Homo sapiens: one gene and its partners. The protein of the gene in region 1 purifies or fractionates together with the protein of each later gene. This does not show direct contact. Each region holds a gene or a part of one and is shown on either strand. Other genes may lie near its edges.

What was found.
Region 2: the proteins of TRIM58 (region 1) and KRT9 purify together in Homo sapiens (affinity purification with mass spectrometry, with the first as the bait; one large-scale study listed by BioGRID). This does not show direct contact.
Region 3: the proteins of TRIM58 (region 1) and NUP50 purify together in Homo sapiens (co-immunoprecipitation; one large-scale study listed by IntAct). This does not show direct contact.

The regions. Positions count from the first base shown.
Region 1 is NC_000001.11:247,860,143-247,863,791, reverse strand, and holds part of TRIM58 (E3 ubiquitin-protein ligase TRIM58), read right to left. Parts: intron 3,176-3,649; coding exon 3,080-3,175; intron 1-3,079. UniProt on the Homo sapiens protein: E3 ubiquitin ligase induced during late erythropoiesis. Directly binds and ubiquitinates the intermediate chain of the microtubule motor dynein (DYNC1LI1/DYNC1LI2), stimulating the degradation of the dynein holoprotein complex.
Region 2 is NC_000017.11:41,569,253-41,573,695, forward strand, and holds the start of KRT9 (keratin, type I cytoskeletal 9), read right to left. Parts: upstream 2,808-4,443; 5' UTR 2,741-2,807; coding exon 2,099-2,740; intron 969-2,098; coding exon 886-968; intron 764-885; coding exon 607-763; intron 336-606; coding exon 174-335; intron 1-173. UniProt on the Homo sapiens protein: May serve an important special function either in the mature palmar and plantar skin tissue or in the morphogenetic program of the formation of these tissues. Plays a role in keratin filament assembly.
Region 3 is NC_000022.11:45,170,380-45,174,028, reverse strand, and holds part of NUP50 (nuclear pore complex protein Nup50), read right to left. Parts: intron 3,042-3,649; exon of another isoform or gene 2,852-3,041; intron 2,430-2,851; coding exon 2,346-2,429; intron 1-2,345. UniProt on the Homo sapiens protein: Component of the nuclear pore complex that has a direct role in nuclear protein import. Actively displaces NLSs from importin-alpha, and facilitates disassembly of the importin-alpha:beta-cargo complex and importin recycling.

The DNA of each region.
Region 1 (3,649 bases):
GGAACATACTTCGTCCCAGGCTTAGTTTCTAGATTTTCTTCTCTCAAGATAAGTATATCGAAAACTAACTTTAAGCTGAGTACGAGAGGTAAATTATTCCCTCAAAGTATCTATACCTCCCATTCTCTGTCCTGTTTTATCGATTTATTTTATTTTTTGTATATATTCATGGGGTACAAATGCAGTTTTGTTACATTGTTATACGGCCTTGTAGGTGAAGTCATTTGCCTGGTTTTTTTTTTAATCTTTTTTTTGAGACAGAGTCTCGCTCTGTCACCCAGGCTAGAGTGCAGTGGCGCGATCTCGGCTCACTACAACCTCCTCCTCCTGGGTTCAAGTGATTCTCCTGTCTCAGCCTCCCGAGTAAGTGGGATTACAGGCACGCAGCACCATGCCCAGCTAATTTTTGTATTTTTAGTAGAGACAGGGTTTCACCGTATTGGTCAGGCTGGTCTCAAACTCCTGACCTCACGATCGGCCCGCATCGGCCTCCCAAAGTGCTGGGATTACAGGCGTGAGCCACTGTGCCCAGCCTATTTGCCTGTTTTTAAACGTGATAACTTCTTGCTTTGACTAAAAGGCATGAGCTATCACCTTTTTAAACTAAACATCCCCTAAGACTTAACTACTTCCTTCCATTTTCCATCTCTACCTCCTTCCACCATTTTCTAAATCACCAGATTCAGAAAACTTCATCTTCTTTCTGAAATCAGCCAAGTCTGAATTCCATACACTGATTCCTGAAAGTGTAACTCATGTAAATATGAGAAGCTCTCTTCATATCAGAGGCTGTGCTGTCGTGGGGTGGGGCAAATAACGCAGCCACTGGAGAAGGGTAGAGTCATACCTGGGGCACGAGGGGGTGTGAGGTGGGAAGGTGGGAAGCGATTTGCCTGCAATCCATCTTCCTTTCACACCACCCTCTTGAGCACAACTATATCTGCAGACAGAGAAAAAGGAAAGGTGGTTTTGCAGTATTTAGAATAACTTTTGACCAAAGATGTGTTTGCTGCATTTGGCTCACATGGAGACATTCTTGATGGTAATGATCATGCAAGTTTACTTGGCTTAGAACAGGGATCTTAGTATCATCCCTACTTAAGAATAATCTGTAGAGGGCTTAAAACATGCAGGAACTCAGCTCTCCGATATGGGGATTCTGATTTTATAGATCTATGGTCAGGCCAGGATTGAAAACAACTGACTTGTATTTCAGCCTGAAAAGAACAAAAATTATCAATCAATATTACAATATTAAATAATGTACATCCTACCACTATGTACATTATAGGCAAGTAATGAACATTATTTAATACTGTAAAGCTTTGTTCTTGTTCTTTTTATCTCCATTGCCACTACCCAATCGAAACTATGCTTTACTAGCTTGATCTTACTGCAGAACCCACTGCTATATCCCTATCACCTAGAATTGCATCTTATACTGTCACTACTAGTTTAAAGATATTTGTTAATAATATTGATAAGTTTGTCAGTATCAACGTTAATAAGTTTAAATATTTCTTCACACATCTGAGTAACGTTAGGTACTAATGTTATTAACATCAATATTATTTAATATTGATAACTTTTATCCTTTCCTATCACTATCTACATCATTTACCTATAATGTACATTTTTCTTTTCTTTTTTCCTTTTTTTGTCTGAGACAGAGTTTCACTCTTGTTGCCCAGGCTGGAGTGCAATGGCACGATCTCAGCTCACCACAACCTCTGCCTCCTAGGTTCAAGCAATTCTCCTGCCTCAGCCTCCCGAGTAGCTGGGATTATAGGCATGTGCCACCACGCCTGGCTAATTTTTTTTTGTATTTTTAGTAGAGACGGGGTTTCTCCGTGTTGGTCAGGCTGGTCTCGAACTCCTGACCTCAGGTGATCCACCTGCTTCGGCTTCCCAAAGTGCTGAGATTACAGGTGTGAGCCACCACGCCTGGCCTTAATGTACATGTTTCTTCTGGGATAAGTGTTATCTTTTCCTATCCGTATATATCTATATTGTAATCTAGTAATGTAGTAAATAAAGAAAAATATAGTTTAAAAAGTCTTTATGTAATATCTGTATAAAGACAGAGTATAAGACTAAATTTTCAAAGAAAACAAGAAGGAAATAATTATAAATATATAGAGTGATCAGAAAAGAAGGGTTATTTGGAAAAGGAGAAAGAATAGGAATATTCTGCAAAGTATAACCTATTATATATCATATTATATAATACATTATATGAATATATAGAACTATACACACAGTTTCTATACGTAGTTTCTCAATCTTGACACTACTGACATCTTGAACAGATCATTTTTTCCTCACAAGATATGGGAACTGTCCTGTGGACTACAGGGTGTTAAGCTGCATTCCTGCCTCTACTAGATGACAGGTGCACTGCACCCACCCCTCCTCAGTTGTGACATCCAAAAATATCATCTCCAGAAATTGCAAAATGTTATCTTGGGGGGCAGGTATCGCCTCAGGTTGAGAATCACTGTGTGTGTGTGTGTATGTGAATCACTGTGTGTGTATGAATCACTGTGTGTGTGTGTACACGTGTGCACGCACATGTGCATGAATGAAACATGGAATAAAAAGAGCTAGTGAGGTATAAAAAAATGGAATATGTGTATGTATAGATGATAGAAAAAAAAGGCTAAACGTTCAGATTATTACCCTGTATATAAGATGATCACCTTGGGCTACACTTCTTCTGTTACAAAGTTGTGAAATATTCATTATTTCATTCACCTAACAAATATTTTCAAACTGGTAGCAACAGTATAAGATGCTATTCTAGGTGACAGGGATACAGCAGTGGGTTTTACAGGAAGATCAAACTAGCAAAGCTATTTAATTATAATTTGGATTGGGTGATGGCAGTAGAGACAAAAAGAACAAAAATGAACCATATCATTTGAGGGGACGGGATGACCCAGGATGGCTCTGAGGTGCTCTTGGGCATATATGGAGATGGAACAAAAGTGCTGGAGAATGGAAGATGGTAGAAGAATTACTGACCCGAATCTGGATCCTTCAAACAGGCAAGCCTCCTAAAGCCCCAACATGGTCTTACCTTCCAAATGACAGTCTTTTTCCCCACGTTGGCCTCCTGAGTCAAGGCGTCCTCCAACTCTTTCCTCATAAGTTCCAGAGCCATCTGGAGCTTTACCTGTTTGGGAACATTTCAGCTGTTACAGATGCCCTCAATCTGTACCTAACGTCACACAGATGTGTGAGGAAATACAAAAGTCAACTTAAACAGTCCCTAGAAAGCACATAAAAATGTTCAATATCATTAAAAACTAAACATAAATGTACTTAAGTTTTAGTGTCAGGGTCTCGCTCTGTCACTCAGGTTGTGCAGTGTTGCGATCATGGCTCACTGCAGCCTCAAACTCCTGGGATCAAATGATCCTCCCACCTCAGCCTCCCAAGCAGCTAGGACTCCAGGCACACATCATTACATTCAGCTAATTTTGTTTTCTGTAGAGATGGGGTCTTACTATATTGCCCAGGCTGGTGTCAAACTGCTGGCCTCCAGAGAGTCTCCCATCTTGGCCTTCCAAAGTGCTGGGATTATAGGCATGAGCCACTGGGCCTAGCTCCTTAAATGTATTTTAATACCAGATACAATCAAATATTT
Region 2 (4,443 bases), on another chromosome or scaffold:
GATGTTTGTATGCAGTGAATGAAGATGGATGAATGACTTCCATTGGAAGATGGATAAATGACAGCTGCACTGAGAGATGCAGAGATAGGAGGATGAAGGAATGGGAGGTGGGAGGGATGGAGATAGGAATAGATGGAGGGGAGGAGGATGAATGGGCAGCCCACTCTGCTCACCTGAGTCTCATATTGATTCTCGATGTCCTTTCTGTTCTTAGCAATGAGCTGCTCATACTCCTGACGCATGTCATTGAGGGTCTTGGTGAGATCTTTGCCAGGAGCAACGTTTATCTCCACATTGACATCTCCACTGTTCTGCCCAGTCAGCTGACTCATCTCCTGCCAGGGAAGAAGGGGAGATGAGGTCACGGATAAAGTCCTCTGCACCACCTTTCAGAATTCTCCCTCTGGTCCCCCCAGGGTACAAAAAGGGGACACAGTTGTGAAGCCAAAGCCCAACCACTACCATAGGTGATGCCAAGGAGAAGTTGAAAGTGTCCTCAAGAGCAAAGGAGAGGGTGTCTCCCAGGTAATGTTCCAAAGCTCCCCTGCTGTCTCTGCATTTCTGCTCCTCCCTCTTCCCGGTAAGCCATAAGCCCCAGCAACCTACCTCCTTATGATTCTTCTTGAGGGCCATCAGCTCCTCCTGCAGAGTCTCATACTGCATCTCCAGGTCAGACTTCTCCATGGTCAGATTGTCCAGCACCTGCCGCAGGCCATTGATGTCAGCATCCACTCCTTGCCGCAGGTTTTGCTCCATCTCAAACCTGCAGACCAGCCAGGGTTAGAAAACAATCAAGAGGGAACCAGGCCCTACCAGGACCTCCAGAGCACTGAGGTTCAGGGGTAAGGGCTGATGACAGGAGAGGAGAAGAGGAGCAGGACTCACTTTATCCTGAAGTCATCCAGTGTCATGCGAGTGTTGTCAATGTCCAGGAGAGTTTTGTTGTTGCCCACTGTCAGGTCCACAATCTGAAAAAAAAAGGACACAGCCATGATATCATGCTGTGGACCACTGCTGAGAGGGCAAGAGGCCAGGCAAAGCCACAGGAGGTGAGGATTCCATCCAGGAAGATTCTCAAGAGGAATGAGGAACTTCCAACAGCTGGGACATGGCACAGACCCCTTCCAGCCTTCAGCGAAGATGTTTGGTGTGGCCTTCATTCATTCATTCAACAAATATTTGAAGATCTACTGCAAAGGGCATTGTAGGATTTAGAGATTACTGACATCCTGTTCCTCAGGGAGCCCACCATTGACTACAAAGTCAAAAGTGTCCTAAAAGAGTTCAAGGAAAGGAGAGGTGGCTTATGGCAATGGGAGATCAAGAAAGACTTCAGGAAGGAGGTGGCTGGCAATTGAATTGGGCCCTGAAGGATGGCTAAGATGTAACATTAATAAATAAATGGAAGAGGTTTAGAGTAGAAGAAACAGCACATTCAGAGACATGCAGGAGTTAAAACAAGAGGAATCACTGAGAATACTGAAGAGCCAGACCGTGAGCTCCACCAGAACTAGGTCTAGCACATCACTATGTCTACCCAGAGCAACCCTGAGGGTAGGCACTCACTGAACTGAGTGGCTGAATAAATGGATAGATAGATAGACATGTGGGTGGAGGGAGGAAGGGATAGATGGAAGGATGGATGGATAGATAGCTTCCATTCCCAGATTTCTGGATCCTCTCCAACACTTGAATAACCAACATGTACAGTCAGGTCCAAAATACCTTAAAAGATCAAGATACACTCCTAAAGAAGCCCAGGAGAAGTACAAAGGAAGAGAAAGTATTGACTTAGACCAAACCTAAAGGAGGTTCCACATCCAGTCCCAGCTCAGCTCACGTTAACCCAGGTCTCCTCTCTGCTCTGCCCAAACTCTGAAAGTTGAGGAAATGGAAGTGAACACTCAGAGCACAGGCCAAAGTCCTATCCTGGGATCCCCAGAAACCAAACACAAGTTTGTTTCTGATGAAAGCGTACATTTCCAAAAGGTGGATTCCCTGGCTATTATCTGAGCTTAGAGTTTAGCATTTTAACTTTTTTGGAAGATAAAGAATGAAAGAGAAAGAGACCAAGACAGAGACAGTTTCCTGCACCTACCTGGTCCTTGAGATCATCAATAGTGTTATAATAAGGGGAGTAGTTCTTCTGGATAGCAGCAGGTCCCTTCTTGTCGTACCAATCCTGGATCTTATTCTCCAGGTCGTTGTTGGCCTCCTCTAGAGCCTGCACCTTATCCAAGTAAGAGGCCAGCCGAGAATTGAGTTCCTGCATGGTGCTCTTCTCATTAGCAGTCAGAATACCACCATCACCTCCTCCAGCACCACCTCCAAAGCCCCCAAACCCCCCAAACCCACTCCCATAGCCACCACCAAAGCCACCTCCAGAACCACCACCAAAGCCACCTCCAAAACCCCCAGAACTACTATAGCCTCCTCCAGAAGCACCACCAAAACCTCTGGAACCACCCCCAAAGCCACCGCCTAAACTACTGGCACTAAAACCACCCCCAGATCCTCCGCCGTAGCTGTAGCCAAAACTGCCACCGCCTCCCCTCCCACAGACACGAGAGCTTCCCCCACCATAGCCACTAGAAGAGCTGAATCGGCCCCCTCCTCCACCGCCCCCTGAGGAGCTGAAGCGGCTGTAGGAAGACCTTATGCTGCCCCCGCTGCCCAGGCCGCCCCCGCCACCCCCGCCGCTGCGGCTCAAGTAGGACGAGGAGAACTGTCTGCAGCTCATGACACAGCTGGTAGCTCACGGGTTGAGAAGCAGTGATAGGAGTGCTACCGGCTCCCAAGTGCAGGGTACAGAGCTGTCCCTGGGGCTGCCTACTTATACCCCCAGCTGAAGGTGGCACGCCTGGGTGTGCCCTTGTTCTGTGCCAGCCTCCCCCCACAGACCCGAGGGAGGTCTGGGATACGGAGGCAGCCGGGCTGCCCCAGGCTCAGCGTCCTTTGGTGACTGCCTGGGGGCGGCCCAGCCTCTCTCCATTGTGTGGGATAATTTGATGACATTAGGCTGTCAGGGCCACCATAAATCAGCTGTACTGCCACAGGGGTGACCTAGATCCTGGAGTCTGGTCTCTGGCTGGCCCCAACAGCAGGTCTGAGACTTAGCCCCTTCGGGATAGAAACTCCCAAGAGCAGAGTCACCTCCTCTATTGATGGTCATTACTGTCTGCATCCCTCATGCCTCCTTGCTCCCACCTTGTGCCCACTGTGAGCTGAGCTGGAACTAGGGTACTAAGGAGTTATCATAGAGGAGGGGGAGGCACAGCCCCTGCCCTTGTGGAGCCCCAAATGGATGAAAACCAATCCTTGCTCTCAGGATCCTCGAGGCTTTCTGCAGAGTCTGAGGCTCTGCCCTTGGGAGACTCCAGTTTGATGAGGAGGCAACTGGCATGGCCAAAAGATGGAGACGGGCACCGAGACCATGCCCGCCAGCACTAAAGGACAGCGTGCAGAGTTCACACAAAGGGCTGGAAGAAGAAAGTGGACCAAATAAACAAGGTGGTGCTGACACTAGCTGACCTCTGAGCAGGAATGCAAGTGGCTCGACTGTCCTGGTCCTTTTGCAGGGCCCAGCAGGGAGTGTGGAATTGACCTTGGTTGAGTGCCTACCCCATACAGAACTCTGGAGGGGATACAGAGATGTGTGACTTATCCCTGCTCCTGGCAGAAACTTGGATGTATATTCTGGTCACCAAGGCCAGAAGAGAATGGTAAAGAACACGCTGGTCTCCGGTGTGCCTACCTGAGCTCCATCCAGCTCCATGCTCATGAGCTGTGTGACTTTGATAAGTTACTTAAATACTCTGTGCCTCAGTTTCCTCCTTTGAAAAAGGTTGATATGAGTAGTTTGTCCATCTCCTAGTAAGAGACTTGTGAGAAGTGCTCAAAAAATGTTCGGCTGCCTCTGATCATTCAGCCCCCTAACTCCCCGTCAACTCTGCCCTCACCCAGACCTTAGCCATGAGCTTCTAACTGCCCTCCCTGCCTCTCCCATTCCCTCTGACTCTTCCTGCACAGCAGCCAGAATGACCTTTCTAATCCATGTCTGACAACATCACTTCACCAGTTTCCCTCCACCCTCAAGATAAGGTCCACATTCCTGGCACTTAGGCCCATCCCCATCTTTCCATTCCTGCCCCATCTCCCACCATCCCCCAGGCCCCCTAGAAAATCATACAATGCTTCCCAAATGCCCTTCTTCCCTCTAAGAATACTCGGCACTTGCAGTGACCTCTGATTGAAATGTCCCACTCCATCTTTTCTACACAGAAAACTACCCATCTTCAGTGATCCCTCTGACTGCCTCCTCCTCTGTCTTCCTGTACTCTCGCCCCCTGGGTTTGTACTGTGCTCTGTTATAGTGTCTCACACTTATCTCCATGGCTCTATGAAGCACTTGATGAAGAATAAAAGTTCATGTACTGAAAAAAT
Region 3 (3,649 bases), on another chromosome or scaffold:
TTTTACTCACCAATACATCTCCAGTGCTTAGCAGATCTACTGAATCCACTATTTAGGAAAAGCCGCATTTCAGCATTCTGGTGGGTGACATGACATTTAATTGTCCTAATATATGAAAACTTCAGGCTAAGAGTTACAGCTAAAATTATCTGTGGATTTCTATTATCCACCTACACTTAATTTCCCTTAGTTGCCCAAGGGCTCCTGCCCTCTCCTTCCCTCATCCCTTCAGCTTAAGTTGTAGATTATGGTCTGTACTATTTCTACCTCTTGAACTTCCTTCGGTTGCACAGGTGACTGCCCCTCCTTCAGAATGGCTTCCCTTGGCTTCTGCAGTGAGCTTTGTTTCTCACTCCTCGTAGGACCCTCCACCTGCATGCCTCCTGTCGCCCATTCCCATGGCCTCAATCCCCCACATGACGAAAGCTGCCGGAGCTGTGCCCATCCTTGCCATAATTCCTGTTGTATACCTAGTGGTCTTCCAGGGCACTCCACTTGAGTGTACCAAGGCCTTTCAAATACAGCATTTCCAAGACCAACCATTTCCTCCTTAATTAAACTGTCCCTCCCCCCATGTATCTTCCCAGTGAAAGAGCCATCAAATATCACTCAGCTCAACACCTACGTCTACCACCTAGTCACCAGTCAAGGCAATTCATAAAATCAAACCAGACAAAAAAAAAAAAAAAACACCTGAAGTTCAAGAGGTTTACTGTACAACAGGCAGGTAGAAATGTATTATGCATCTGAAAATAAGACCATGTTGTACACCATAAGTATATAATTTTTGTCAAATAAGAAATACAATTTTTAAGCAAAATATAATTAATTAATTACAAAACACAAGACCTAATCTCTAGCTTGGATCTGAGATATGCTTCCTCTGTACCTACTTCCTTTCTTGGCAGTGCAACCCGTTAACCTGAATTCTACATGAAAGAGCTTTTACAACGTCAGGAAATGAAGCTCCTCTCATGCATCTGAAGCATGCAATGGAGCAGAGAAAGAGCACACACTTATGACATTAGCCATGGCATCCTAAAGACGTTCAAGACTACCCAGAACCACCTGAGAATCGATTTCATGTAGGATTACGTATCTCTGCCTCGAATTACACTATATTGGTATATACAGTAATATATTTTAGGAAAATTGCGAATACTTTATTTTTATAATTTGAATTGTTTTCCCATTAACACATACCACCATTTATGAGACGCTCTGAGTGACTGGCTGTTGTAAACGTCTTACTGACTGCCTCCCCACCACTGCCACCTACCTGGCTCCCTTCCTTACGTTTTCAAACTTTAATACATTTTATGATCAAAACTTTGGCAATGTAATGAATATTTTTGTAATAACAATTTCTTTTCATTGCTTCTCAAAGTGTGAATGATACACCTTTCCTATCCTTTTTTTTTGGAAATAAAAGGGAAATAAGCTTGCATGTCCCTTAAGGAGAACGCTCAGGAAAGTAAGTATTTCCGCTCCCAGGAAGTCTGCATTATGCTTACTGGCACGGCACCTCTAACCTGACCATTTGAGATCCTCCAATGACTATTTCCTTGGAGCATCACGTTGGTGCTCAAAAAGCTTCAGATCTTGGAGCATTTTGGATTTCCAGATTAGAGACACCCAAGAATATAGTCTATTCTTGATGTTTTAAACACTGCAAAACGTGAGGTAGGGTAGGTTTATTTCAAAGCTGCCACCCAGGATATTCAAAGCGGCATCTCCTGCCTAACACCAGATGTCCAGGCCACCAAGACCACACTCTCCTGGGTCTAGAATGTATCTGAAGGGAGAGGATGTACTGGGGACGAGTTCTTAGATGCGGAGTGACTGCTTAATAATCAGCACATTATTTCAATTTAGGAGTTACAACTCATCTTCCATCCTTCTTAGCACAGGAATGAATCATTTTAATATACTATACTAGCAAAAAATCCACACCTAAAATGCCTCTAGTATAGTGAAAGGGCTCCCCCTACCAAGGCCTCAATCGCAGGGAGCAGACAAGACTCTCAGAAGATCCTTGCGTTTTCCTTTCTTCCTCCAATCTGATGCCACTTCGCCCACCTCTGTATTGCTTTGCTCATTTTTCTTCTCCAGATTGTCACTCAACTTGAATTTGTCTATATTTATCTTATTTCCTCAACTGGATAAGCTCTCTTTAAGGTCCAGACCTGACGTTTCTTATTTTTTTCTATCTCCCATGACCTACATCAAAGAATAAGTATTTTAAGAAAGCATTTGTTGATATCATTGCTCCCAGCGGAGGGATTGCTGTGCAACCCAGAAATCAAATGAGTATTTAATAGCAAGAGCTGTAAGGGGGCACTCACTTCAAATCCAACATTTCTGCGCTTTGCTTTCTTTATGGCTCTATTCTTCAAGACTTCCTCACTGGCCATGGAGAATGTTCCCACCTGCAATACAATACAAATTAAGCAGCAGTAAGATAAAGCCAAACAGATGACAAAATCCTCAACAACAACAACAAGCTAGAACTGAGCCACTGTGTCCGGCCTCTCAAAAATAAATTTTGGCCAGGCACAATGGCTTGCGCCTATAATACTAGCGCTTTGGGAGGCCAAAGGTCAGGAGTTTGAGACCAGTCTGGCCAACATGGTGAAACTCTGTCGCTACTAAAAATGAAAAATTAGCTGGGCATGGTGGTGGGCACCTGTAATCCCAGCCACCTGGGAGGCTGAGGCAGGAGAATCACTTGAACCCTCCGGGAGGTGGAGGTTGCAGTGAGCCGAGATAGCACCACTGCACTCCAGCCTGGGCAACAGAGCAAGACTGTCTCAAAAAAATAAATAAATAAATTTTGTTATTTATAACATACACATGATTTTTAAGATGAGTCCTGCCCAACTTGCCCACTGTACGAAAGGCCACGGAGGCACCTAGGACCTTGCTGGACAACCACTGCTCTTCCACAGTGCGCTCAAAGCACACTCATGTCCACACTTCTGATGTCCACGTCAGAAAGCTGCTGAATATCTTCGGCTTTAGTTTATAGCCCTTCTTTTACCCTGTAGGGTCGGAATAAAATATTTCTCATGCAAAAATTCTCACCTATAGTTGTTTCAGATCATATTAAACTTAACGGGCTCCTACACTCATAGAGGGGACCATCTGGCTGCACTTGCCCCAAGTTAAATGTACTTAACTAAATGTAATCTTTCCACACATTTCATTGGCATATGTTCGAATGGGAGTTCTTTCATTCCTGAATATTTTAATGTCTAAGCAAATAGTTACATGGTAATCTAGATGTTACTATAGCCCAGAATGTAACTGTGCTTAAGATCTTAAACCAACAACAACAAAAAACCAAAAACCCCCATAACCAAAGATTTTAGTTAAAAAGCACCAAATCAGTTTTGACCCTGTCAAAACACTCACATCCTTGGGATTCTGGTTTCCCTAAACATATGTGAGGAGATACACTTGTAGAGAAAAAAAGTACTAGTACCAGAAAGATTCCAAAAGAAGGAAGATGGCCGTCTAAGAATAAGCTTGGAAACAGTTGCAGTTTTAACATTTTTCTTTTTTCACTTAGCACTATGCTGTTAACCTGAAAGTCGTGGTTACAGATTTCCTTAGTCATCTGGCCTGGGGGTAACACACTGCTGATAAG